Linked DNA regions of Homo sapiens. The protein of the gene in region 2 purifies or fractionates together with the protein of the main gene of each other region. This does not show direct contact. Each region holds a gene or a part of one and is shown on either strand. Other genes may lie near its edges. The genes, in order: KXD1, EXOC1, EXOC6B and EXOC7.

Region 1 (7,025 bases), on a different chromosome or scaffold from region 2:
GGCCTACAGGAGCCCTGAGGGCGAACCTGGCTCACTGCACTACCTGGGCTAGGTATATGACCTCCCCTCAGCCCAGCTCCCTGCTCTGTAAACTGCTGTTGGAGGCCCTGGGATGGAGAGCTGTCGGCCTTTTCAACAGATGGTGTGAACCCAGGCTCAGCCTGCAGAGCCCTTTAAGGTGGTGGCAACATGGAATGGTACCCCAGAGAACACGCGAGCTCTCTAGCCAGACAGATGCGAACTCAAGTCCTGCCCCTCTGGGCCTCTGTTTCCCTCTCCATGAAACGGTGATACTCACAGTCCCCACCCCATGGGTGACTGTGGGTAACAGCTGGACATGGGACAGATCCTCGAAGCTGGGGCTCAGGGAAGGCGAGACGATGTCGGGGCTGGTGTCACATGAGCCCGTGCTCTGTTCTGAGATGGCTCATAATGCACACAGGGATAAGGATTGTCATGCTGCTTATCCACATTCTCCTGTGCGGCCTCCCCACGGGGCACGGACTCCCGTCCTAGTGCCCACTCTGCCAGCTGCTGACAGGACCAGGCCAGCACCCTGACCCTGCCCCCACCCCAGGTTTCCCCAGACCCACTGCCCATTACAGCCTGGTCTCAGTATCAGGCCCCAAGGTGGCCTTCCAGAAGCCTGCCCTGGGTGGAGAGTGCTGACGTGCTCGGGAGCAGGAACCCTGCGTGACACTTACGGCTGAAGGCCTCTGGGTGCTGCCTGGCCAGTTTCCCTTTCAGCGTCCTGCAGGGGAGAGAAGGCACACAGGGCTTAACCTGCTGAGCAGGTAGGCTGGGCCTGGTGCTGGCCACAAGCCCCTGCTGCCAGCTGAGGGCAAGGGGAGACGGGAGTGAGAACCCCCACACTGTTCATCACCTCACATCTTCACTCTCTCTAGGTGCTCGGCCCAGCAGCCACGGCCCTGACAGTCGCCCACCAGCCGGCCTCCAGCCCCAAGGTAGGCACCAACCCCCAACTAGTTAGACTCTGGGTGCTCTGAGCCTAGGCACTGGCTGGGGGCTCCCCCTGCGAGGCTGCTTCTTACATGTGGCCTCTTCTCTGATAAATTTTTTTTTTTTTTTTGAGACAGAATCTCACTCTGTCGCCCAGGGTGGAGTGCAGTGGTGCCATCCTGGCTCACTGCAACCTCCACCTTCCGGATTCACATGATTGTCCTCCCTCAGCCTCCCAAGTAGCTGGGATTACAGGCACGTGCCACCATGCTCAGCTGATTTTTTTGTATTTTTAGTAGAGACGGGATTTCATCATGTTGGCCAGGCTGGTCTCAAACTTCTGACCTCAGGTGATCTGCCTGCGTCAGCCTCCCTAACTGCTGGGATTACAGGCATGAGCCACTGTGCCCAGCCATTCCTGCCTTTTCATTATGTGTCTAGCACTATGTTACTTTTTTTTTTTTTTTGAGACGGAGTCTCGCTCTGTCGCCCAGGCTTGAGTGCAGTGGCGCGATCTCGGCTCACCTCCTGGGTTCATGCCATTCTCCTGCCTCAGCCTCCCGAGTAGCTGGCAATACAGACGCCCACCACCACGCCCAGCTAATTTTTTGTATTTTTAGTATTTTTTGTATTTTTAGTAGAGACGGGGTTTCACCATGTTAGCCGGGATGGTCTTGATCTCCTGACCTCGTGATCCGCCTGCCTCGGCCTCCCAAAGTGCTGGGATTACAGGCATGGGCCACCTCGCCCAGCCGCACTGTGTTACATTTTTTAAGAATAAATAAACTGCAAGGCTGGGCATGATGGCTCATGCCTATAATCCCAGCACTTTGGGAGGTCGAGGTGGATGGATCATCTGAGGCCAGGACTTCGAGATGAGCCTGGCCAACATGGGGAAACCCTGTCTCTACTAAAAAAATACAAAAATTACACAAAATACAAAAATTAGGCTCACACCTGTAATCCCAACACTTTAGGAGGCCGAGGCAGGCAGAGTGCTGGAGCTCAGGAGTTTGAGACTAGCCTGGGCAACACGGTGAAATCTCGTCTCTACTAAAATACAAAAAATCAGCTGGGCGTGGCAGCATGCGCCTGTAGTCCCAGCTACTCAGGAGGCTGAAGCAGGAGAATCGCTTGAACCTGGGAGGCGGAGGTTGCAGTGAGCTGACATTGCACCACTGCACTCCAGCCTGGGCGACAGAGCAAGACTCCACCTCAAAAATAAAACAACAACAACAAAAATTAGCTGGGTGTGGTACAGTATGTCTGTAGACCCAGCTACTCAGAAGGCTGAAGCACAAGAATCGCTTGAATCCAGGAGGCAGAGGTTGCAGTGAGCCAAGATCACGCCACTGCACTCCAGCCAGGGCCACAGATCAAGACTCTGTCTCGGCCGGGCGCAGTGGCTCACGCCTGTAATCCCAGCACTTTGGGAGGCCAAGGCGGCTGGATCACGAGGTCAGGAGATCGAGACCATCCTGACTACTAACACGGTGAAACCCCATCTCCACTAAAAATACAAAAAATTCTCCAGGCGTGGTGGTAGGCACCTGTAATCCCAGCTACTCCGGAGACTGAGGCAGGAGAATGGCGTGAGCCCGGGAAGCGGAGCTTGCAGTGAGCTGAGGTCGCGCCACTGCACTCCAGCCTGGGCAACAGAGCGAGACTCCGTCTCCAAAAAAAAAAAAAAAACTCTGTCTCGATCAATTAATCAATCAGTAAATAAACTTACGTCAAGATTTTATCCCAGGGTTGGAATTGTCCCAGACACTTAAGTGCGCAGTGAAGCCTTGTAAAACAAACAGAAATCTCCCTTTACCCTGGTATGTGAAGGAAACTGAGGCTCAGATGGGGAGGTGGAGGCAGAGGTCAGCTGGGCTGGGGTGGCACTGAGCACCCACCTGATACGGCGGAAGATGCTGTCCAGGTCCCGTTTCATCTCTACTAGGGTCCTCGTGTGGTGCAGGAAGCGTTCGCTCATCTGCTGCAGGCGGGCACTGGACAGGTTGTTGAAGTTGAGCAGCATCTCATTGGTCTTCTCAAAGCGGTCCAGCCTGATGGTGGAGAGAGGGCATGAGCTTCACTGCCCAGCTTCAGGGCCCTGCCCAACCTGGCCCAGAAGACTGTTCATGCCAAGCCCTTGCCTGCTTCACAACCTTTGCATGGGCTGTTCCCTTGTCCTGCAGAGTTCTACCTACTCTTTGAGCCACCTAGCAAACTCCTATTCAACCTTCAAAACCCTACTCAAGTGTGTCCTTCTCATGTAGCCTTGTCTACCTCTATTCAGTCAGACTTTTTTTGAGACAGAGTCTTGCTTCGTCACCCAGGCTGGAGTGCAGTGGCGCGATCTCGGCTCACTGCAAGCTCCGTCTCCCAGGTTCATACCATTCTCCTGCCTCAGCCTCCCGAGTATAGCTGGGACTACAGGCGTCCGCCACCATGCCTGGCTAATTTTTTGTATTTTTAGTAGAGACGAGGTTTCACCAGGTTAGCCAGGATGGTCTCGATCTCCTGACCTCGTGATCCACCCACCTCGGCCTCCCAAAGTGCTGGGATTACAGGAGTGAGCCATCGTGCCTGGCCCAATCAGACTCTTTTAATTCCACTAGCCCCAGGTTGTTCCTCTGGCCCAGCCCTGACACCATAGGGCCAGGAGGGTCTGTGTCTGGCTTTGTCTCCCCTCAGTCTAGAAGTTTCCCAGAGCCAGGTCTGAATCTGACCTAAAAAAACAGGAGACCAGCCGGGCATGGGGGCTCATGCCTGCAATTCCAGCGCTTTGGGAGGTCAAGGCAGGCAGATCATGAGGTCAGGAGTTCGAGACCAGCCTTGCCAACATGGGAAAACCGCGTCTCTACCAAAAATACAAAAATTGGCTGGGCATGGTGGCGGGCGCCTGTAATCCCAGCTACTCGGGAGGCTGAGGCAGGAGAATCATTTGAACCCGGGAGGCGGACATAGCAGTGACCTGAGATTGCGCCACTGCACTCCAGCCTGGGTGACAGTGCGAAACTATGTCTCAAAAAAAAGGAGACCAGCACTTTAGGAGGTTGAGGCAGGGTGGATCACTTGAGGTCTGGCCAACATGGTGAAACCACATCTCTTCTAAAAATAAAAAAATCAGGGCCGGGCACGGTGGCTCACACCTGTAATCCCAGCACTTTGGGAGGCTGAGGCGGGCGGATCACGAAGTCAAGAGATTGAGACCATTCTGGTCAACGTGGTGAAACCCCGTCTCTACTAAAAATACAAAAATTAGCTGGCCGTGGTGGCGCACACCTGTAGTCCCAGCTACTTGGAAGGCTGAGGCAGTAGAATCGCTTGAACCCAGCAGGCAGAGGTTGCAGTGAGCTGAGATTGCGCCACTGTGCTCCAGCCTGGCGAGAGAGCGAGACTCCGTCACAAAAAAAAAATCAGCCAGGCATGGTGGTGCATGCCTATAATCCCAGCGACTCAGGAGGCTGAAGCAGGAGAATCACTTGACCCAGGAGGCAGAGGATGTAGTGAGCAGCAATTATGCTATTGCATTCCAGCCTGGGCGACAGAGTGAGACTCTGTCTCCCAAAAAAAAAAAAAAAAAAGACACAGGAGAGAGACAGGTACTATTGAGACTCGGAGCTGCTCTGGGTCTGGGAGAAAAGGTAAGGAAATCAGGTCTGTACTGTGTCGTGACAGCTGAGAAGAGCCTCTGGCTCAGAGACACAAAAACAAAGCTGCGGGAGGCTGTGCTTCCACTCCAAGACTGTATTAGCCCAGTGGTGTCCAGTCTTTTCATTTCCCTGGGCCACATTGGAAGAAGAATTGTCTTGGGCCACACATAAAATACACTAACACTAACGACAGCTGATGAGTTAAGAAAGAAAAAGAAAAAAATCACAAAAAAAATCTCGTAATGTTTTAAGAAAGTTTACGAATTTGTGTTGGCCCACATTCAAAGGGTTGGACAGGCCGAGGGTTGGACAAGCTTGGTATTAGCCTTTCTTCCCCACAGGGCAGGCCTGAATTAGGGCAAGGTTTCAGCAGCCACAGCACCAAACCCCAGTGAGGACAAGAGGCCTTTATGTCCGCTCCAAGAGACCCTGGGCACTGTGCAGACACAGCCTGGGCTCTGGGAGACTAGTCCTTCACCAGGAAGTAGGCGCACCAGCATAAAACCTGCATAAAGGCCAGGCACAGTGGCTCAGGCCTATAATCCCAGGACTTCGGGAGGCCGAGGCGGGTGGATCACTTGAGGTCAGGAGTTCGAGACCAGCCTGACCAACATGATGAAAGCCCGTCTCTACTAAAAATACAAAAATTAGCTGGGCATGGTGGCACATGCTTGTAATCCCAGCTACTCAGAGGGCTGAGGCAGGAGAAATCGCTTGAACTCGGGAGGCGGAGGTTGCAGTGAGGCAAGGTCACACCATTGCACTCTAGCCTGGGCAACAAGAGCAAAACTCTGTCTCAAAAACAAGAAACAAATAAACAAAAAAACCTGCATGTGGCCCCCTCTGGTCCTTCAACTCTCCCACCCCAGGTCTCGGGACAGGAGCCCCTGCGGCCCCCGCCAAGCCATCCGCAGCTGCAAAATCTCCCCAAAGCCCTGCTTCCTGTGCCAAGGCCTCGCCTCCAGGCCGGGAAGGAATTTACTTTGGAGCCAGCGACAGATTTGCTCATTTCCTTCATTTTATCACCAGTGTGGGCCCCGGGTAGGGGCGGGCAAGACAAGAATGTTGGCCAGCCTGTGGATTCCTTCCCACGCTCAGGTCCCCCAGCCGCCACTCACATGTTCTTCTGGGCCAGGATGATGGCGTTGACATCATCTGTGTTCACCATGCTCAGGATGCGGCCGCAGAAGACCCTCGAGGCCGAGTCCGGGAGGTCCATCTCTTTCTCCTCCTCCGCTGCCTGAAACAGGCAAGAACAGAGTGGTCTGCACTAGTCACCAGGTGAGGTGGGACCAAGAGGCCAGGCCGGGACCGCCATGTGCTGGAACCTAACCCAACCGTGGTGGTATCCTACAGTGGGGATGTGTGACTGTGGCTCAGTCATGCCACCTGAACCTCAGGTGTGCCACCCCAGGAATTTGGAGGTATTGGGCAAACTAAGAGAGGTTGTATTTGTAAACTGTACCCAAGCACATTAGAATCCCATCACCTCCCACTTCCATGAGCCCAAGGCCACAGGTACCTCTCACCTGCACAGATCTGCCAGCTTCCTCCCTCATCCCCTGCCTAACAACTGCTGTCCTCACAAGCTGAACGTGTGTGGCTGCTTCAGCAAATCATCACCACCTCCAATGTCTCCTCTCCCAAGAGGTCAATGACTCCTGTTCCCGTCACTCTTACCGCTTCTCTTACTACTTGACCTCGTTTTTTTATTTCTTTTTGATACAGAGTTTCACTCCTGTCACCCAGGCTGGAGTGCAATGGCGCGATCTTGGCTTAGCGCAACCTCCGCCTCCCAGGTTCAAGCGATTCTCCTGCCTCACCCTCCCAAGTAGCTGGGATTACAGGTGCCCGCCACCACGCCTGGCTAATTTTTGTATTTTTTAGTAGAGACGGGGTTTCACCATTTTGGCCAGGCTGGTCTCGAACTACTGACCTCAGGTGATCCACTCGCCTCAGCCTCCCAAAGTGCTGGGATTACAGGCATGAGCCACCGCGCCCAGGCTACTTTACCTTGTTTTTGTTTGTTTGTTTGTTAAGAGACAGGGTCTCGCTATGTTGCCTAGGCTGCTCTTAAATTCCTAGGCTGACACGACCCTTTTGCCTTGGCCTCCCAAAGTGCTAGGATTACAGGCCTGAGCCACTGCGCCCAGCCACCCTTTACCTTGATTTAACTGCTTCACTGGTTCACCTCTTCATGAAATTATCCTAGTTATCAGCTAACCCGTTTGCCTGTCACCGCCACAACGTCAGCTCCAAAAGAGCAGAGGTGGCCAGGTGCTGTGGCTCACGCCTGTAATCCTAGCACTCTGGGAGGGCGAGGCAGGTGGATCACGAGGTCAGGAGTTCGAGACCAGCCTGGCCAACATAGTGAAACCCCATCTCTACTAAAAATACAAAAATTAGCCAGGCATGGTG
Region 2 (7,025 bases):
CTTGAAAGCTAAAAGTGCTGCTAGGTCTCAAAGTTCTTTATTTTTTTGAGACAGGGTCTCACTTTGTTGCCAAGGCTACAATGCAGTGGTGCAATCATGGTTCACTGCAGCCTCCACCTCCTGGGCTCAGGCAATCCTCCCAACCTCAGCCTCCTGAGTAGCTGGGGACACGGACACATACCAGCATGCCTAATTTTTAAAATGTTCTTGTAGAGACAAGATCTCCCCATGTTATCCAGTTGATCCTCCTGCTTCGGCCTCCCAAAGTGCTGGAATTACAGGCATGAGCCCTGTTCCTGGCCTAACGTTCTTTCATGTGATAAAGAAGCTCAACCAATCTGAGAGAATTACACTATAGTTTCTTCAAGTCTCTTAAGCCACATTATAGCAATAATCCACATCAGGCTAATATTTCTCCCTTGAATGAATAGAACTACTTGACTATTATATAAAAAAACAGGCTGGGCTTGGTAGCTCACGCCTGTAATCCTAGCACTTTGGGAGGCCGAGGTGGGTAGATTGCTTGAACCCAGGAATTTGAGACTGGCCTGGGCAACATGGCAAAACACTTCTCTACAAAAAACACAAAAATTAGCCGGGTGTAGTGGCATGTACGTGTAGTCCCAGCTACTCGGGAGGCTAAGGTGGGAGGATGGCTTGAGCCCGGAAGGTGGAGGCTGCAGTGAGCCAAGATTGTGCCACCGCACTCCAGCCTGGGTGACAGAGTGAGACCCTGTCTCAAAACAAACAAGCAGACAAACAAACAAACAAACTTATGGATGTATACTTCACATCCAAGGAATTAAAAAATAGGCTCAAATATTCTTAATGTTCTACAGGGTAAAAGAATAATAATATATTTGATTCATTTAAAGTGTTATTTGGGGGAAATGTAAATACATTAAAGTAAGGGAAGTTATATCAGACTTTCACTGTGAAGAACTGGAGTATCTCAGGAATCAGGACTTGACCTTTGGTACAACAATCATATTACAGCAGCATGGAACTACTAATTAGTTCAATTTATAGCTTAATAAACAGAATTGAAGCGTCAAAAATTTAAAACCTGCATATACAATGAAAAGGTAATTGCATTATTACTTACAAAAAAACACAACAAGAGTATTGGCAACCAATATGAAACTTGATGGGAAATAATCTCTTCCCTGGGAATATTTCCCATAATACCATAAAAGAAGCTGAGTGCTCCAGTGGCAACACTCACAAATCAATGTGTGATACTAAATGGCTAATGTTAAGTTATGTATAAAAATTTTATGTTTTATATCCATATATAGCATACACACACCAAGGTGCCTACATAAAATGCAAAAAAAAAAAATCCATTAAGCAAGTCTGCAAGAGGCATCAGCTGTGAGAATGCATTCAAATAAGCATTCAGCAATGTTACTGAATTATGCAAGTCAACAGGGTTACGAAGTGCAAAACTACTGAAGGGAAAAATGTTTTTTAATAAAGGTGCAGTTTTAAAAACCCTTAAAGTGTTTTGTCTTAACAGAAAACAACCAGAAAAGTTTCCACTCTTGATCCCTCCCCATGGTAATAAAAATTACTTACAGAAGTTTTTTTTTGTTTTTTTTTGTGGAGACAGAGTCTCACTCTGTTGCCCAGGCTGGAGTGCAGTGGCGCAATCTCGGCTCACTGCAACCTCTGCCTCTCAGGTTCAAGCAATTCTCTTGCCTCAGCCTCCCAAGAAGCTGGGACTACAGGCGTGTGCCGCCACGCCCAGCTAATTTTTTGTATTTTAGTAGAGACAGGGTTTCACTGTGTTACCCAGGCTGGTCTTGAACTCCTGAGCTCAGGCAATCCACCAGCCTCGGCCTCCCAAAGTGTTAGGATTACAGGCGTGAGCCACCACGCCTGGCCTAAATTATTTTTAAACATCCCATTATAATTTTCTTTCCAATCTCTAGCTTTCTAAATTTCTGTCAAATCCTGTTTCTACATTTCACATTTTTCTAAGCATTGGGTGCTCCTTAGGGATAAAACAAAGGGCCAGTAAGCCTAGAATACTTAAAGAAAAGGCATGATTTACATTTGGAAGAAATCTGAATTATACAGATATAGAGGGCTCTCCTCAAATTGTTCTTACTTCATTTTTTTTGCACCCAACTCAACTACCTGTCATTTTGTCCAGATTTTTGATCCTTGGAGGTTTGTACCAAAGTAAGGGTAAAATCAGAATTTTATTTTAACAGATTGCTTTACACAGGCAGTTTTTTTGTTTTTTGTTGTTTTTACTTTGTGCCTTTTTAGTAAATGTATGAGATTTGTAGAGTCAAAGAGCACCTGTAGTTTCACTAGTATAAGCCTTGCTATTATGTTCATCCCATCGACATACAAGTAGTTGTGGTACAAAGTATTCTCTTGTGCTATGGAGGTGTGTTAGGGCTGCAGAGAAAGATGAAGGGCAGAGTGAGAGAGGGCCAGGGGGAGGAAGCACCTAATTTAATCAAAGGAGGCCAACTTGATTGCTTTGAAAAAAGGGTATTGCTGTGAAAGCTTTGAACTGTCAGGAACATAGGTGGTCCTTTAATGTGATTATCACATTAATCACCTTTCTTGGAGTTTGAGTGTGGTTTATCTATAACGTGTAAGTTTATATCTTCATAGATCTTATTATCTACATTCCTTAAAATAAGGTATGTAACCCACTATCATTTCTTTTTTTTTTTTTTTGATCCACAAACATCAAAGCCATGGTGGCCTCAAAAGGCCAGTCTGGCTGCCCCAGCTGGTGATTCTATGTTTACTCATGAAGACTAAGGAAGGATCACTTTGGTTATATGATTTTGATTAAACAAACAAACAAACAAGCAAAAAAAACTCATGACACACCACTTTAAAATCCATACTATGTATAGATTTTATACAAATTATACTTAATCTAAACACAGAAATGTATACAGTCAAAGTAATTTTTCTCTAGTTTATGTAGCTTGTGCACAAACATAATTATAGCTTAAAAAAAGCAAAAAAATAAGAAAACAAACATATATATTAATTTGTTTTTAGATCATTTTAGAATATGTAATACCATGTTATAAAATGAAAGATGCTTTCTGAACACAGGTCAAAGAACTGAGAAAAACCTACTTTGATAGCATCTTTGGCATCTACCACAGCAAGATCTCGAAGGGCCCATGCAATCTGCCTTTTGTAGAAATCTCCCTTATCGGATTTCTTGACTTTGACCACCTTAACCTGCACAGGGCGTTCAGTTGTCACTGTTGAGTAAAACGCACACTTTTATTAGAAATATTACCCCTTTCACTCATTCTTCATTCACTCATTGCAAGTATAGCTTTCAGGTGCCTAGTAGCTGATACTAAAAGAGGTGTAATACTTTGCAACAAGTGCTATGACCGAGGAAAGCACAGAATCCTAATAGAAGCATCTAAGTCAGACTAGAAGATCAGAGGAGATTCCTTGAAAAATAAAGGAATGATATATTAATAATAAATTCAGACCAGTTTTAAAGAAAAGTATGAGGTAAAAATCTAAAGAATGATTGACATAAGTAAAGTCTGTGAGGCTTGAAAGAGCAAAATACCATTTCAAAGAGCAACAATACATTTATATATAAAGTTCTTACTATGTTGCCCAGGCTGGTCTTAATTAAACTCCTGGGCTCCAGCGATCTGCCCACCTCAGCTTCCCTAAGTGCTGGAATTACAGGCATGAGCCACTGCTCCTGGCCTAAGAATTTCTTTATAGCAATGCAAGAATGGCCTAATACAAATACATTACGATTGAGTGAGGTCATTCTAAAAAGTCAATTTATCATTTCAAAAACCAAGTACAATTATATACTACACTAACAAGGAAGAAAATTTTATGATATCAATGATATGAAAAAGCAGTTGATAAAATTCAACTCCCATTCATGATTTTTTAAAAAAGTGTAAGAAACCAGGAATAGAAGGGAACTTACTTAACACTGTAAAGTATAGCTATAAAAACCCTATACCAAATACCATGCTTGAAAATGAAGTCATTCTCCTTGAGATGGAGACTGTATTGATAGTCCTAACTAGGAAACTAAACCAACAAAAATAAAAGATATAAAAACTATAAAGGAAGGAAGAAAAATATCACTACTTTCAAAAAGTCTACATATAATTAGAATTAATAAGAAAGTTTGGCAAGATTGATAGACATCCATATAAAACACCAACAATTCATTGTAGAATTCTAACAATATATGATTTTAAAATGTATTAATGTTAATAAGCGCTTTCACGACTATCAAATAAAATCTAAGAATAAACCAATACTCAGGAGTAAATCCAAGAATATACATGACAAACCTTTAGAGAAAATGATGAAACTTATAAAGTTAAAAAACACCTAGATAAATAGAGAACTGTACCATGTTCATGGACACAAAGATTCAATACAATAAAAATGCAAGTTCTCTCCAAATTGAACTATAGGTTCAAAACAATTCCAATCAAAATCCCAACAAAGTCTGAAACTCGACAAGTTGTTTCTAAAATTTAGGTGGAATAAAGAACAAAAACAAAATAAAAATAACATATAAGATGACAACCAGAAATGCTCACACACACCATGACAGATGTCAACACAGGTGAACTAAGACTAAACTGTAAAAGGCAAAATTATAAAACTTTTGAATTTAGGAAAATATTTTTATGACTGCACAAAAGATACAGGGAAGGATCTTTTAAGACACCAAAAGGGAAAGCCATAAAGGATTAATTAATTTCATTTAGTTTAAATTATAAATTTCATTAACAGGCATCATAAAAAGTGAAAAGACAAGCCACTAACTGGGATGCATACAACCAACAAAAGGTTGATAACCAGATTATAGAAAGAACTTGTACAAATCAGTAAAAGGACAAGCAACACAACAGAAAAATGAGTAAAAGGCTTAAACAGGTAAATTTCATACACAACAGAATGAAATGACTAAGAAATTCATGAGAAGATGCTCAATCTCATCATTATAGGGAAATATAATTTAAAACCACAATGAGATACTATTTCACTGCCACCAGATTGACAACAATTAACAGCCTGTCAAAGCCAAGTGTTAACTAGGAATGTGTTGACCCAACAATTTTTCCAATTACAGAGACAATGAGGATATTCAAAACAAAGAGGAAATATCTTCTAAATAATAAAAGGATACAAAACAAGTACTCTTTCTTACTAAATACCCACCTGTGGCACATAAAAAACAGTTCTTTTTCTTTTTTCCTGCTTTGCAGACATTCACAATGCTCAGCAGGCGTTCATCATTTGGTGTAAAAATGTCTCTTTGTAATGCATGCTTGATTGCTGTCATCTTTTCTCAGCTGAAAAATGTGGAGTATAGATATTAAGCTCACCCTCAACATCATTCCATCTTATACTTCTGAATTTATGATTTGAAAATAATTTTTGGTTAACAAGCCTAGGAAAAATGATTTAATATATGAATACACCTATATCACAAAAATACAAAGCTGTAAGTTTGGAAATAAAATTAGAGAACCAGTGTTATCAAACTCTAAAATGTTTGGAAATGCTCACCAAGTATACACACACACACAAGATTTAAGAAAAAAATCTTCAACCCACTGCTCAAACTTTTAATATAGTTTTCTACATAAAGAACCCTTACAACAATAAGAAGACAAATAACCCCATTAAAAACTGAATAAAAGACCTGAACAGACATTTTTCCAAAGATATACAAATGGCCAATAAGCATATGAAAACATGCTTAACATCACTGGCCACTAGGGAAATGCAAATCAAAACCACAATGAGGTATCAACCACTTTACACCCATGAGGGTGGTTAAAATAAAAACGATAGAAAATAACAAGTGTTGGTGTAACAAGTGTTGGTGAAGATGAGAGGAAACAGAACTCTCATACATTGCTGGTGGGATTGTAAAATGGTGCAGCCACTTTGGAAAACAGCTTGGTGACTCCTCATAAAGTGAAACATGGGCTACCTTATAATCCAACAATTCCACTCCAGGAGAACTGAAAACATATGTCCACACAAAAATTTGTACATGAATGTTCATGGTAGCACTATTTGCAATAGCCAAAAAATGGAAATAACAGAAATGTCCATCAAATGATACATAAGCAAAATGTGGTATATCCATACAATGGATTATTATTCGGCTGCAAAAAAAACAAAGGGCCGGGCACGGGCGGTGGCTCACGCTTGTAATCCCAGCTCTTTGGGAGGCCGAGGCGGGCGGATCAAGAGGTCAGGAGATCGAGACCACGGTGAAACCCCGTCTCTACTAAAAATACAAAAAAATTAGCCGGGCATGGTGGTGGGTGCCTGTAGTCCCAGCTACTGGGAGAGGCTGAGGCAGGAGAATGGCATGAACTCGGGAGGCGGAGCTTGCAGTGAGCCGAGACTGCGCCACTGCACTACAGCCTGGGAGACAGAGCCAGACTCTGTCTCCAAAAAAAAAAAAAAAAAAAAAAAAAAAGAAAAAAAGGAAATGAAGTAATGAAACATGCTAAAATATTGATGAATCTTGAAAAGATTATGCTAAGTGAAAGGAGTCAGCCACAAAAGACCACGTATTGTATGATTCCATTTATATGAAATATCCAGAGTAGGAAAATCCATAGATACAGAAATATAAGTGGTTTTCGGGAGCTGGAAGGGAAGGTGGAAACGAGGATTGACTGTTAATGGGTATGGAGTTTCTTTTTTGGGGTGATGACAATGTCTTTCAACTAGATAGTAATGATGGTTATACAACCTTGTGAATATGCCAAAAATCACTCAATTATACAATTGAAAAGGGTAAATTTTATGATACATAATCTCAATAAAACTGTTATAAAAATAGGTTTCCACTTATCTCCTTTTTCTTATCTAACTCAGCATCTTTTCAAACATCAACTTAAAATAATTTTAAATCTCTATTTTATTTTTCATATACATATTTGTGTGGATATGTATTACAATTTTTCAATGCAAATGTGTAGTATTTCATACATGTGAGCTTGCCTAGG
Region 3 (7,025 bases), on a different chromosome or scaffold from region 2:
ATAAATGCCAAATGAAGAGTAAAAGGCATCTAGCTTTTTCTAAAATCCCCAAGTTAAATATTTTATTTAAATATTAAATGTGAAAAGTATCAAAGGAAGTTTTCAGGCAAAAACTTCACATATTCAGGCAAGAAAAAGGCATCTGACATTATCCCATTACTAATATTATTCCTTTACCATATTACCTTTCTTCCAAAAGAAGATAGAAAAAGTAATTTTGCAATCAACTTGTAATGATTTATCTACAATAATATACCTAACATACCCTACAGACAATTATCTGATATAAGGTCACTTATATTAATGAAGTGGAGGCCAGGCAGGTGGGGGATGGAAACCCAGGGTAAAAAAGTTTTGGTTTGTAACTTCAAAAGACAATCTATTTTCAAGAGAACATTTCTATGAAAACAATTTCATTTTCAGAGAAAATGACAAATTAATTGTACAAACCCCATGTTTCATTTATTTTCTTAGTAAGAATAGTTAACAAAGAAGTGACTCAAACTATTCCCCAACTATGTTTATTTTCAGAGTAGCCTGGCATACCATGCTTTCCATTCATTTCATACATACACTCATTAAAAAAAATTTTCCGAGCTGGGTACAGGGGATATTGTGTTGAACAAAGATAAAATGTTTCCACCCTACAAAAGGATGGAACACAAACATCCTCATTTGTGTTTGGCTTGGCTTGTATGTTGCTCCAGCACTTATTAATTGTTCAGCTTCTTAATTAGACTAGGTACTCCTTGAAGACAGGGACCACATTTTCAGCAACTTAATTATTTCTATACCAAGCAGCATCTGACAAATAATACATTAGCCAAAATCTACGGTGAATAAACCAATACATGAATAAAGAAACAAAGGAGCCTACACTCTAGCACGTATAGAAAATATACATATACAAGTAGAGCAATAGTGTTTCCAAAGGATTTTATCTGATACTCCCCTTTTGGCCTTAACATTTCATTAAGTAGAATGTCAAAATCAGTATTTTTTGTCTATTTTTTTTTCTATAGAGATGGGGGTCCCACTATGTGGCCCAGGCTGGTCTTGAACTCCTGGATTCAAGCGATCCTCCTGCCTCAGCCTCCCAAAGTGCTAGGATTACAAAAATGAGCCACTGCATCCAGCCTACCATTTTCTAGTAAACTGTCATTAATAAGTGTTGAAATGCAAATCTATAAAGAATAAGATAGATAATATAAATTTTCAAAATTATGCAAAAGTTACCAATCTTCTCTTTCATCGTGACTATAGAAATACAGCAGTGCCATGCAGTGAAAAGCTAATTATTAAGATTTCCAAAATCAGGGCTGACGGGACTATCAAAAGTTTTTCAGAATATGTAAATACATGGAGTCACAATCTTAGCATTGGTTACATTTCTACTATTTTGTATTATACCTTAGATGAAGATCTTCTGAAAACTTCAGACAAGCGTAGATAAATTCTTTAATTTGGTTGTAAACTTTTGGCACAAATTCAGAGAAAGGAAACTTTTTTGGAAATGGTTGCTGTAAATGCAAGAAGTAATGAAATCAAGTCACAAACCAACGAAGATTGAAGATATTTATAAATTATTTAGGTTGCAAAAAGAACATTCTTTCACATTGTGAATTGTCTCCTTAACAAACTCAAATATAAGAAAATATCTCCCAAAGTTTTCTGATATTAAAAAGACATAAATTTAAATAAAACAATAATTCAAATGTCCTTCATCATGGAAAGAGATAAACAAATTGTGTTACATACTCAGCAATAAAAATGAATGAACAATGATACATGCAACAATTTGGACGAATCTCAAAAGCATTATGTTATATCAAAGAAGTAAGTCTCAAGAAGTTATATACTACACAATTCCATTTATATGGCATTCTGAAAAAGGCAAAAGTAGATGCACAGAGCCCAGGTTTCTGCTGTCCTGGGGCTGGGTTAAGGGAGGGGTATTACAAAGGGGCATCATTAAATAATTTTTTTTTTATAATAGAGCTATTTGGTATCAACATTGTGGTAATGGATACATAACTCAATACATTGTCAAAATCAGCAGAATTGTACACCACAAAGTGTAAATTTTATGTTGTGGGGAAAAAATGTCTTTAAATTTTAATAAAAACAAGTATTTCAAAGTGTAAACTGAATTAGAACATCCGCAGCAATCCTCCAAACACTTCAGAGGTAATAGGATCCAAAGCCATCTGCTGATTCCCAAATCAGGAAATTCTGGTCTTCCCCAAAAAGAATCCTTCATCGTCAGAAAGGTGATTAAAGTGAAAAAAAGAAAAAGAAAAAAGAATCCTTTGAAATTGTTTTAGAGTTCTAACCCATTGAGTTAAAGGTAATGCTTTCAATCAAACTGATCCAATGAAAGCTTTTAAGAGGATGCCAAAACAACCAGAGAAATTTATTTTAAAGTATTCCTTACCTTTTCCAGTTCTATATCTTGAAATGGGAATTGTCCTACCACCTTTTTGTACATCTCTTCACTTGTTACTGGTATAGGACTGTAGTTGTCAGAATCAAGTATGTTTCTATAAATGGAAGGATAGACAAAGGGAAGGGAAGGATAGACAAAGTGGGGGGGTAGGGGAGGGGAACAGAGGGAAGGTGGGTTAATCACAAATATTTTTCTGATGAACTCCAATCTTAATATATATGCCACAACCCAAAATGAACATTTCCCAGTCCCTATTATATTCCTTCCACAATATAGCTATTTGGTTTTGGATTTAAAGAAGACAAAAAGAAAACTATCCTCTGAAACAAATGGACCACAATTATAAACATATCTCTTAGGAACTGAGATTTACAAATAGGACAGAACATTTCAATGTAAGTGAGAAGTAAACAACAAAAGAATGTGTGCTCTAGAAAAGGCAAAGATATTTTCTGTTTGGTTTAATATGATATATAAATGTACATTATTATTATTATTATTATTATTATTATTATTATTATTATTAGAGACAGGGTCTCGCTCTGTCACCCAGGCTGGATTGCAGTGGCATGATCGTAGCTCACTGTAACCTCAAACTCTGGGGCTCAAGCAATCCTCCCGCCACAGCCTCCCAAGTAGCTGAAACTACAGTTGTTCACCACCACATCGGGCTAATTTTTAATTTTTTTGTAGAGATATAATCTTGCTATGTTGTCCAGGATTGTCTCAAACTCCTGCCCTCAAGGGATCTTCCTACCTTGGCTCCCAAAGTGCTGGGATTACAGGCATGACCCACTGCACCTGGCCCATTGATAAGGTTTTTAAAATCATGTTCTATTCTAACTTTCAAAATTGGCAAACAGAGTAACTTCAATAATAAATTCAAACTATTTTCATTTACTTTACCTACTGCTCTATATCAAGGATGACTTTTTTTAAATCGATAGGTTCTCTCTCCTTAAATAAACTGGGCATTCTCTAATAGTAGGGAACATACTACCAAAATCAAAACAGAAGACTCACTGAAGGCGTCAGATCAGAGCATCTAAGACTATGGATATATCATGTTATTAATTTTCAAATATCCTATAGAGATAAGACTCCCTTAAATACAATTATACCATTAGCTAAATCTAGGTTTTAGAAATATAAATATTTATATTAATATACAGATAAATTGGACTAAGTGATGATCAGAGATATGTTCATAAACGAGAAGAGTAAGAGTAAAGGACTAATGTAAGATCTTGAAGCTATAAGAGTTTGAAAAGAGGACAAACTGATCAGGGAAAGGGGTCTTGCAATAGGCAGCATAATCACTTAAAGTAAAGGAGTAAAGGTATAAAAAGAGAAGAAAGTCAAATGAGTTGACCTGGATTATGTGCCAAGAGCACAGTTCGAGAAGACATCTGTGAGTGATAGATGTGACAGAATAACTTTCTTATTATTGTATGCATGTTGCAATAACTACTTAAATAACAGGCTTCAAACACTGGGCTGTAATATGCCCCTTTGCTGTGTGTGGAGAGGGAAGATGATGAGGAACAACATGAGTGAGTCATCCAAACAGATTTTCCGAAAGCCTAAATTATTCCTAAGTGCTCAAATGTTACTCACTATAATTGAGTTGTAGACTAGGCATGAACCTCAAAATGAAAACCAAATAACAGAATAAGATGACACCAAGATGATCTGAATGACATGAACCAAGGAATCTGATATTTATCGAAGGAAACAAAAAGGCAAAATAGGGTTTGGGGACTTCCCACTACAGTAGACACTAATACACTGAGACTGGATATCTTGGGAACTTAATTTTGGACGTTCTAACAGTTTATTTGAATTCTGGATCATAACCTAGAGTAGCTACAAAATATAAGTAACATATACTTGTTGCCTATAACATCTGAAAACCTTTGCGCATAAATACATGTGTGTACACTAATGTACATGAACACACACACATATGACTATAGATAATTTCTCACCTGAAAATACCTGCCCACTTCTTTAGCAGAGTTTCACTATATTGGTCTCTGATTTCTAACAGCATGTCAAAAAGCTGATTTACAGGGAAACCATACACCTGAAACAAAATAAGAAAATCACTTCAGTGTCTAAGGAAGGAGTTTTTTTTTCGGTTTTTTTTTTTTTTGGCAAAATGAGAGGGATAAGATACTGAAAAACATTACATTCTTTGAACAGCAAATTAAATAAAACCATTTAGTAGAATCTTTCATTCACACCTAATATCTAGCATTTATCTCTCAAAAATTAAATAATACCTAGCAAAATGTTTAAGCCAGTGAGAAAAAGATGAAAATTAAAATCTATATATAAAGGGTATACTATGGGATAAGTCCTCCCTACATCCCTTCCTATAAGTCCTACTACCTATAGTAAGCGTTCACAGAAGGGAGAGAAAGTAAAAATGCTTCGAATCTCATCCACTTCTAATGCTATTCTATTAGATATAATATGTGGTTCAAATCAACCACCATTATTCAAGATGGTAGTTAAAGAAACTGCAAACTAACTCAGCTGCCATATATGAATTAAGAACATTTTGAAAAACTAATGTAGTCAGTAGTTCAATTAATTGATTTGATGTGAGAGAAAAAAAGGAGGTGGAAACTACATATGAAAACATAATGGCTCAGGGTAAAGTTCAGGAAATGCTATAAAAGAGATAAAAAGACCTAGTTCCTAGGAAAATAATAAACCCAACTTAAAACTAACAGGTAACTTATCCAAGCTTATGTAGATTTTTTTTTTTTTTTTTTAAGACAGAGTTTCACCCTGTCGCCCAGGCTGGAGGGCAATGGCACTATCTCAGCTCACTGCAACCTCCACCTCCCAGGTTCAAGAAATTCTCCTGCCTCAGCCTCCCAAGTAGCTGGGATTACAGGCACTTACCACCACATCCGGCTAATTTTTGCATTTTTACTAAAGACAGGGTTTCACCATGTTGGCCAGGCTGGTCTCAAACTCCTGACCTCAAGTGATCCGCCTGCCTCAGCCTCCCAAAGTGCTGAAATAACAGGCGTGAGGTACTGCACCCAGTCAGATTTTTTTTTTTTTTTTTGAGATGGGTCTCTATCACCCATGCAGGAGTGCAGTGGCGAGATCATAGCTTGCCACAGGCTTGGACTCCTATGTTCAGGCAATCCTCTCACCTCTGCCCCCAGAGTGCCTGGGACTACAGGAATGTGGTACTGCTACTGGTGATTTTTTATGTTTTTATTTTTTGTATAGATGGAGTCTCACTATATTTCTGAGGCTAGTCTTGGACTCTTGGACTCAAGCAATTCTCCTACCTCAGGCTTCCAAAGAACTATGATTACAGGCAAAAGCCACCAGACCCAGTCAAGAAAAAGGTTTAGAGCTGATTATAATACCAATCTAGATGAGCATATGTAAACAGAAATCACATACCTGAAGTGTGTCAGCAAAAAGCACAATGAGGTTCTTCAAATCTAACACAAGGTTTGGATCAGAACAGTAAGACTAAAGTAAATAAAAGACAAAGGAGGAAAAACATGTTATTAGTAAAAATGCAATTAAATTTTTATTTATTTAATTGTTTAGCGCTTTATCTGGCAAATTCTTTACCTGGTAAATTCTTTCCCTAGAAATAATTCAACACTTCCCTGGTACAAGGTAACACCAGGTTCAGCCAGGGAACAGCTGAGTACAGCAAGTTCAATAACCATGATCTATATTTTTAACACTTGGGAATTTAAAAATGCACTTCTAAATAACTCTTTGGTTAAAGAAGAAAACAAAATTGACACTTTTAAAAATGAACAACTATAAAATACTTCATATCAAAAACTATGGTATGTGGCTAAAACCATTTTCAAAATAAATTTGTATTTCTTTATGTAAACATCACAAAACACAAAAGATTGAAAATAAACAAACTAAGCACTGAACTGATGAAACTATGGGGGAAAGCCAATGAACCATAAGTAAATGAGAGAATAAAATTAATTAAATTAAAAACAGAACCTAATGAAATTAAAAAAGATATGGAAGATTTGATTAAATAAACCAAAGACCAAGTTAAAAATAAAATCAATTAAATAAACAAATCTTAGACAAAATTGATTAAACAATAAAGAGAAAATAAAAAACATGAGAAATACAAAAGAGAAAATAAGTACAGAGGAAAATAAAAATTACAAATAATGTCCATGTATAACCTCATATCAACAAATCAGAAAAGTTAACTGACATGGAAAATAATTTCTGTGGGCAGGATACAAAGATGTGTATGTCATTATTGTAAAAATTCATTGATTTTGAGATTCAAATTCTTTAATTATAATTTTTGTTACTTGCTCTCTCATTGGTCTCTCAAGTCCTGAAAGAGGTGTTTTGAATTCTCCCACAATTATGCAGCTTGTCCGTTTCTCTTCATATTACTAACAGTTTTTGTTTTATACATATTGATGCTTCCTTATAAAAGGGCTATTACCTTTTCATTAGATTAAAACTAGTATCGATACCAAATATCCATCTCCTATCCCATTTTAAGATCTTCAACTTCATTTCTATTTTCCTTGTAGAATACCAC
Region 4 (7,025 bases), on a different chromosome or scaffold from region 2:
AGAGTCAGTCCCCAGGGAACCTCACCCACCAAGCTTCAGAGGGACAGGAGGGGGCTGCAGAACCGCACTGCTTACCTCGGGGGTCTAAAGGAATATTGTATGTGTCCCCAAGAACTACGGAGTGAAAGGCAGTGCACACAGAGGGGACAGAGGGAGAGACAAAGGAGGGAGAAAGATGCAAAGTGCAAAAAACAGGTTAGAAACGGCATGTCAACCCGAATTAAGCAGACCTCTCCCCACGACAGCCAAAACACAGATAGCAAGACACAGCAGGCGGGACCCTCTGAGGACCAGGGAACACCCTGGAAAGTAGAGAGCTGAGAACTGCAGGCTGGAGGCTGCCCACAGGCTCCTTGCCCCCAAAATGGGACGGGAGGAGAGGGCCCAGGGACCTCAGTGCTTGGAATGACCCAGAAAGGTGCTCTTGCTTACAGGCCAACCCCCTGAGCTCCAGTCCCAGGGCAGGGCCAGCAGGAAGACGCCCAGCGGGCCCTGAGACACTTGCTACCCTCTGAAGGCCAGCTGAGCGAGCCTGATTAGGAGAGCAGGCAGACACGAGAGAAGGATTTGGGAGGGGGGCAGGGGCAGAAAGGACACCTTCCAACCAACCAGCACCGCTCCCAGAGTGAGGACACTGCTTCCAGGGCGAGGACGGTCAAAGGGGCTGAGGGAGGGGCCAGAGGTCCAGTGTCTGGTCTTGAAAGGTGCAGGCAAACCTTGCTCTCCTGATGCTCAGCCCCAGGGACCCTCTGCTGAGCACACCTCAACCCCTCCACAGACTGGAGATACCTCCTCACTGCTACCTGCCCTCTAACCCCATGTCTCCAGGCAAGGAGGCGAGTGGGGCAGGGGGCCCAACTGGGAGGTACCAGTACCTTGGGAGGCCAGCATGGCGCCTGCCGTCTCCTGGAAGTCCAAAAGCTGCTGCAGGAAGAGGATGGCCTGGGTGGGAAGAAAACGGTGCAGAAGGGCAAGTGGCAGGCCCGGCCGACGGCCTCCCACAGCGACCCCTCTGAGTGCCCAGGGCCAGCCCAGGGCTGGGATCCGCCCAGTGAAGAGCGCGGCTGGAAACTTCATTTTCACTCTAGCCTGCCAGGAAAGGCCCTGTCTGCTAGAGACACTAAACATGTCACTGTCCATCCTGCCACCCAGGACTGCTCACAAAGGTGCGAGCGGCTCTGGGCCAGGCTGAGTCCCTTCCACCAGTACTCTGCCTGGCCCTGGGCCTGGGCCTGGGCCCTCCTTCCTCCCCTCTCCCTGGTGTCCTCAGGCAGCACCCACATTGCTGGTGAGCTCGTGTACGGTGCCGTCCTTCGGCATGTTGTACTCCTTGTCCGGGTCATTCTGTGGAAAAACAGCCTCTGGTTCCCTGAAGCAGCCCCCAGCCCACCCCATGCCCCAGTGCACCTGCTCATGGTGCCGCCTCCTGGCAGACGGGTGCTAGGACACCTCTCAGGCACAAAGGCTGAGCCAGGCTGGACCAAGGGGGAGAGGCCCTTCCCACTTCAGAGGGCTTGGAGGCCCCAGGAAGGAAAGGAAGGCACATGGGTGCTGACAGGCCAGTGGCGCAGCTGGCTGCCCCGGGACAACGCACCCTCTTGGAGGCCTGCTCTGAGAGTCCCCCAGGGCCAGGTCACTGTGGTGCTGGGCCGGGAGGGAGGGAGAAAGGGGAGGACAGCAGGGACCTTGATGTTGTCTGCGAAGTCCTCCAGCGCTTTGGCACCGATGGTCTCCATGGATGTGATGAGGCCAGGCAGCTTGTTCTTTGTGCTGGCAGCCGTGCCCTGAGGAAGCACAGGGGAGCCCCCAGCTCACCTCCAGTCGCTCTGTGAGCATCTCACTCACCCAGGGCCCTTCCTAAGCTGCTTCCATGCACCTTCAGAGCAGAAGTGTGGGACAGAGAATGGGGTTCTCCCAGGGAGGGATGGGGCGGCCACACCCGGCAGCACGATGCCTCCTGGCTGTGTTTTTGAGGGCCCCTCGCCCACATACCTGGAGCACCTGGTCAAACTCAGGCTTGGTCTGCTTGAGGTGTCGCAGGATGGGGAAGACGGTGAGCACCGTGGAGAAGTCGTGTCGCACAATGGCCTTCCGGGCAGCAGACACGATGTTCTCCCCTTCAAGCATCAGCCCATCCAGGGCATCCTGAGGGGGCAGGGAGACAGTTCAGGGAAGGGTGGGGCGGTGGGAGCTAGTTCTGGGCTAGTGGGGGATCCTTGCAGTATGTAGGGGGGCCAGTGTGCAGGAAGAGGGGTGACGGGGAGGTGGTGAGCGTCCACCCAGGACCGGTCCCCAGGGCACGAGGTGGTGGTGGTGGGTGGAGTTGAGGGCTGCAAGAGTCTGTTGTGACAGCTCTTGCTGGGGCTGGCTGCAGAGCCCCCGGGGCGGGGCGGGACCTGTATCAGGGAGTCGAAGGTCTTCTTCTGGTGGTGCTCGGGGATGATGTCGGCCAGCAGCTGGTACTCGCTCTGCGCCAGCTTGACGAAGGCACTGACGCAGTGGATGTAGGCATCGGTCTCCACGTCCAGCATGTCATCTCTCCCTGGGGGATGGCACAACTCTTGAGCTGCTGGTCTGGGGCCAGCCACACTCCTGGCTGGGGGCGGCGTGGGTCCCCCAGCTCCTGGCCTGTACCCCACACTGGCAGAGGATGGGGAAGAGGCTGACTGTTCTGGCAGAAAGCTGCAAGGGAGCCAGCAGGCCCCGCCAGGTTCGAGGGGAATAAAAGGAGCTGAGCCCAGCCTTTGTTCTGGCTTCATTCTCGGCTCTGCGCAGACAGTGGGATCAGACACCAGAGGCAGGAGAGTGACGGATGGAAAGATAAGGAGGGAAGATTCCTGAATCAGCGTCCTGGATAAGGTGGTTTGACCCCAGGACTGAGCATTCTGAGTTGTACCTGAAAGAGGGCAGCCCAGGGTGGGCAGGTGGCTGTGCCACCTCAAGGAGGCTGGCACTGGGGTCATCCATGTGGGCAAATGCGGGGCCTGTGAAGGAAGTGACCAGCCCAGTCAGGGCTTCTGGAACATCTAAGAGGGTGGTTGGCTGCAGCTTCTGAGGCTGGCTGGCATGGGGTCAAAATCTAAGAGGCTGGTAAGTCCCAGAGAGGAGGGGTTGCCAGCTGCCCCAGGAGGAGGCCAGACCCTATTACTGGAGGCCACGGCGGGGGCGCCTGCAGGCAAAACCGGCGGCAGAACTGCCTGGTCCTATGTGCCAAGGGATGGGCTCCGAGGGGATCAGAGCTCTGAATTGTTGCAGGAGGCGGACGTCAGGGCTCCCTGCCCTCAAGGGAGCCACCTTCCCTCTCTGCCTGCTTTCCGAGGAGCAGCGGCTTCTCCCCTTGGCCCAGGCCTGACAGACAGGCACGCACTCCCATCTGGAGAGAGGCAAGGAGACCTAGGCCCAAAAGAGAGAGAGTGGAGAGAGAGGCGCATAGGCCTGGCCCATCCTCAGAGCAGAGTGGGCCCAGCTGGGCCAGGCAGGAGCAGGCCATCCGGGGACCGCTGCGAAGGCAGTGTCAGCGGCTGCCCTCGGGCTGGGCTGCGGTACTCACCGGCCAGCGGCCCGTGCTTGTCGTTCAAGGCCTCGGACAGGTGCTTAACTCGGAAATCATGCTCGTGACCTGGCGAGATGTCGGCCGCACAAACACAAGCAGCGTTTATCCAGGGGCCAGGCAGGCCGCCCCTTGGGGTACAGGGAAGAAGCCCTTCATCTCCAGGAGGGGGACGTCAGATGGGGATGGGGAAGGGGGCATCGGAGAGGGCCCTGAGCCCCTCCTCTACCTCAAGCCACCTTGGGAACAGCCGTTTCAAGCCTGACTTCAGTGAGCACCCAGGACCGTCCTTAGCTGCTCATTTCCCCGAGCCTGGAGGCCCAGGGAAAGCGGAGAAGGACCAAGGAGGGGCTGAAGAGCTGATGCTTGGCCCCAGGGGGGTTCCCCACCTCGCTGTATTTGGGGAAAGCCCCAGTTTGCCTGTCCTCTGCTGCACACACTCCCCTTTCTAAAGATGGGAAGGCCGGGAGGCCTCGGCCAGCTGGGGCCTGCCACTGCTGGTCTGAGCGTGAAAGGGCTGCCCCAAGACAAATAACTTTTTCTGAGTTCACACAGGAGACAAGGACAGAGACAGGGAAGGGAGGAGGGAAGCCTCAGGGAGGGCAGAGCTGCCATCAGCCAGAGAGGACCAGGCCGAGGGCTGCGAAACTGTCCCTGTGCCCGCTGAAGCCCGAGTGGCATCGGGGACCTGCCGTTCCCACCCTGCTCCCCTCAGGGTTTCTCCCGAGGCCCTCCTGGGGGAGGCTCTGCCCTGCCAAGTGCGTGGACACACAGTGGAGGAGGAAGGGACAGGAGGGGAACACAGGGTGATTACCTTCCAGAGGAATGAGGTTAGAGCCCCCCTTTTTCCCATCTAGACCATGCTGGGAATACTGTTTCAGAAGGTTCTGAGCCTTACGGATCGTCCCTGTCACCAGAGCCACACAGAGAGGAGATAAGAAGACCTAGGAAATGAGTGAGAGAAAACAGCAGCGGCCCTCCACCTGCCCCCCAGGCCCCGCACCCAGCTCCCCAACAGTGAGCAGGCCTTTCCCTGAGACCACCAGAGACGCTGGGGACAAGGATGAAGGAAAGGAGTCATTTCCTTCTCCAAATGGAGCCTTGATTCTACTACCGACCCTCCTTGTTCTGGATTTCAGCTCATTTCTGAAAGGACAGAGGGTAATGAAGATGGACCAAGATCCACCAGGAGAAGTCAAAAATATGGAGTGGCATCATAATCAGAACAGGCGAGGGCTCAGGTCGGAGGAGCCCGTGACAAAGCTCGCATACCCAGAGGGCACAACCAGGGTGGGAGAGCCTGGGGGGCACCCTGAAGCCAGCAGGCCCCCAGCCCAGCCCCAAACTCCAGGCAGAGTTCTCCGAGCATGCTCAGTGTTGGGACGTACGCCAAACAGCAGCCAGCAGGAAGCCACCCTGACTGAACTTCCGGGGGAGCGCTGTGCCCAAGGCGGACGGCTCAGAGACCCAGAGGCAGCCTAGCCCCACACCAGAGTTCCCCAAACCACCAAAGCGACAAGAAAAAATCCAAAAGTCAAGAAGGGGTTAACAGAAGCCACCACACAGAGCGCCTGGAGGGTGTGCACGGAAGGAGAGGGCACATGCTCTTGGCATGGGGGAGAAAAACAATAGTTAGTATCACAAGTGAAAACAATGAGAACAAAATGGCAGCACCCACAGCCGCCTGGGTCAGCCTCCTTTGTGGGAATGAGACATCTCGGGCCAGAAGACGTCGGGAAATCAACTCGCATCTCAAGCAGACAAGTGCAGCTGCCTTGTTAACAAAATGTATAGGGGCAGAAAGGCACCCGGGATGCCTCCCACCCCCACAGTCTATCTGAGCACAGTGAGGCTGCTGTGTCCTGGCAGCTCCCCAGAAAGCTGAGGGAGAAAGGGGCAGTGTCTGGAGGCTCACTGCTTACACCTGCACCGCACCGCACCGCACAACACCACAATTAGCTTGTTTTTTTTTTTTTTTTTTTTTTTGAGACAGTCTCACTCTGTCGCCCAGGCTGGAGTACGGTGGCACGACCTCGGCTCACTGCAACCTCTGCCTCCTGGGTTCAAGTGATTCTCCTGCCTCAGCCTCCCAGGTAGCTGGGATTATAGGCGTGCGTCACCACACCCAACTAATTTTTTTTCTATTTTTAGTAGAGACAGGGTTTCACCATGTTGGCCAGGCTGGTCTCGAACTCCTGACCTCAGGTGATCCGCCCGCCTCGGCCTCCCGAAGTGCTAGGATTACAGGCGTGAGCCACCATACTTGGCCCATAATTAGCTCCTAATAACCAAGGCCTGGCTCACGTCTCCCTTGCTCATGCTCTCCCCTTCAGCGAGTGCGGCTTACTAATGAGTGAATCTGATTCCTGCCCCACAACCCACCAGGAGCAGACACAGACGCAGGTGCACGCCGGCAGGATGTGGGTCGCCGATGTGGATCTAGCAGCCGCCAAACCCGTCAGGCTCCCAATTGCCTCCAGGGATGCTGAGGTCGGTGCTTCACCACCTGGGAGGCCTCCCTGTCCCTCTCCTCAGAAGTGGGAACCGACATCCCCAGAGCCTGACTCCCTAGAGCCTGACATCGGTCCTGAGCCCACCAGTTCCTGACAACTCTGAAACCCCACAGCTGGAGTTTTCCTCTAGTGTCTCTGGCCCAAGGATGGATGTGGTCCACTGTGAGCCACCTGAGATCAGATCCCTCCTGCCTGAAAGGCCAGGTAGCTGCATGGCCAGCGGGCACTCTTAAGGCAGTGCAAATAGGGCTCTGGGGCTTCTGGGGGACCTGTCAGGGAGCCAGGCAGAAGAGGAAGCAAGCACAGACTGGCTGGGGCCCAAGCATCCTAGCAGCCTCATAGAGACAGCCACTCCCCACCACACAGAAGGCACAGAGCTGCTCCATCCACTGTGCAGGCAGCTGCGCCCACAGGCTGGGCTGGCAGTCCCCATTTGCAGCAGGTTTTGGCTGGTGGGCAGGATTTCCACACTGGAGGGAGAAGGCCCCAGGCACCAGCTCCCTAATGCTCTACTCCCTGAGGGCAGCCCCTGCTCTGCCTGTTTCTCCAAACCCTAAACAAAGGCCTGCAGGGGAGCGGGTGCTCTTGTGGAACAGACACCTCACTCTCTGAGGGGCATGAGCAGGCAGGGACTGGAGAAACCAAGGGTGTAAGTAAGCTCTACCCAAAGCTTGTTGTCATAAGCAGGTGCCACAGGCCACAACTAGGGCATGTGCCCACAGCAGCAGCTGGACAGGGGGCCAGCCTGGGTGGGAGCAGCCCCGGCTTCTCCAGCTTTCTTTTTCAGTGCAATCTCAGCAGCCCCACCCCAGAACATCCCAGCACATCATCGAGCTGCGGGCAGCATCTCTCAGTGGCCAGACATAGCCGGGCTTGCCAAGCTGTGGCTGGCAGAGACACTGTTTACCTGGAGCACAGACTATAAGGGATATGATGCCGGGGAGAAAGAACAGACAGATGAC

The links.
Region 1: the proteins of EXOC1 (region 2) and KXD1 purify together in Homo sapiens (co-immunoprecipitation; 3 studies listed by BioGRID and IntAct, with this or other methods). This does not show direct contact.
Region 3: the proteins of EXOC1 (region 2) and EXOC6B purify together in Homo sapiens (affinity purification with mass spectrometry; 4 studies listed by BioGRID and IntAct, with this or other methods). This does not show direct contact.
Region 4: the proteins of EXOC1 (region 2) and EXOC7 purify together in Homo sapiens (affinity purification with mass spectrometry; 5 studies listed by BioGRID and IntAct, with this or other methods). This does not show direct contact.

Annotation. Positions count from the first base shown.
Region 1 is NC_000019.10:18,560,858-18,567,882, reverse strand, and holds part of KXD1 (kxDL motif-containing protein 1), read right to left. Parts: intron 5,848-7,025; 5' UTR 5,827-5,847; coding exon 5,726-5,826; intron 4,118-5,725; exon of another isoform or gene 4,104-4,117; intron 3,015-4,103; coding exon 2,862-3,014; intron 2,750-2,861; coding exon of another isoform or gene 2,689-2,749; exon of another isoform or gene 2,674-2,688; intron 752-2,673; coding exon 705-751; intron 1-704.
Region 2 is NC_000004.12:55,856,634-55,863,658, reverse strand, and holds part of EXOC1 (exocyst complex component 1), read right to left. Parts: intron 5,346-7,025; 5' UTR 5,336-5,345; coding exon 5,212-5,335; intron 3,249-5,211; coding exon 3,118-3,248; intron 1-3,117.
Region 3 is NC_000002.12:72,494,020-72,501,044, forward strand, and holds part of EXOC6B (exocyst complex component 6B), read right to left. Parts: intron 5,954-7,025; coding exon 5,882-5,953; intron 4,533-5,881; coding exon 4,435-4,532; intron 2,541-4,434; coding exon 2,435-2,540; intron 1,521-2,434; coding exon 1,411-1,520; intron 1-1,410. UniProt on the Homo sapiens protein: Component of the exocyst complex involved in the docking of exocytic vesicles with fusion sites on the plasma membrane.
Region 4 is NC_000017.11:76,086,779-76,093,803, forward strand, and holds part of EXOC7 (exocyst complex component 7), read right to left. Parts: intron 4,458-7,025; coding exon 4,365-4,457; intron 3,704-4,364; coding exon of another isoform or gene 3,551-3,703; intron 3,394-3,550; coding exon of another isoform or gene 3,266-3,393; exon of another isoform or gene 2,964-3,265; coding exon of another isoform or gene 2,897-2,963; intron 2,543-2,896; coding exon 2,397-2,542; intron 2,146-2,396; coding exon 1,993-2,145; intron 1,785-1,992; coding exon 1,686-1,784; intron 1,345-1,685; coding exon 1,282-1,344; intron 943-1,281; coding exon 876-942; intron 115-875; coding exon of another isoform or gene 76-114; intron 1-75. UniProt on the Homo sapiens protein: Component of the exocyst complex involved in the docking of exocytic vesicles with fusion sites on the plasma membrane.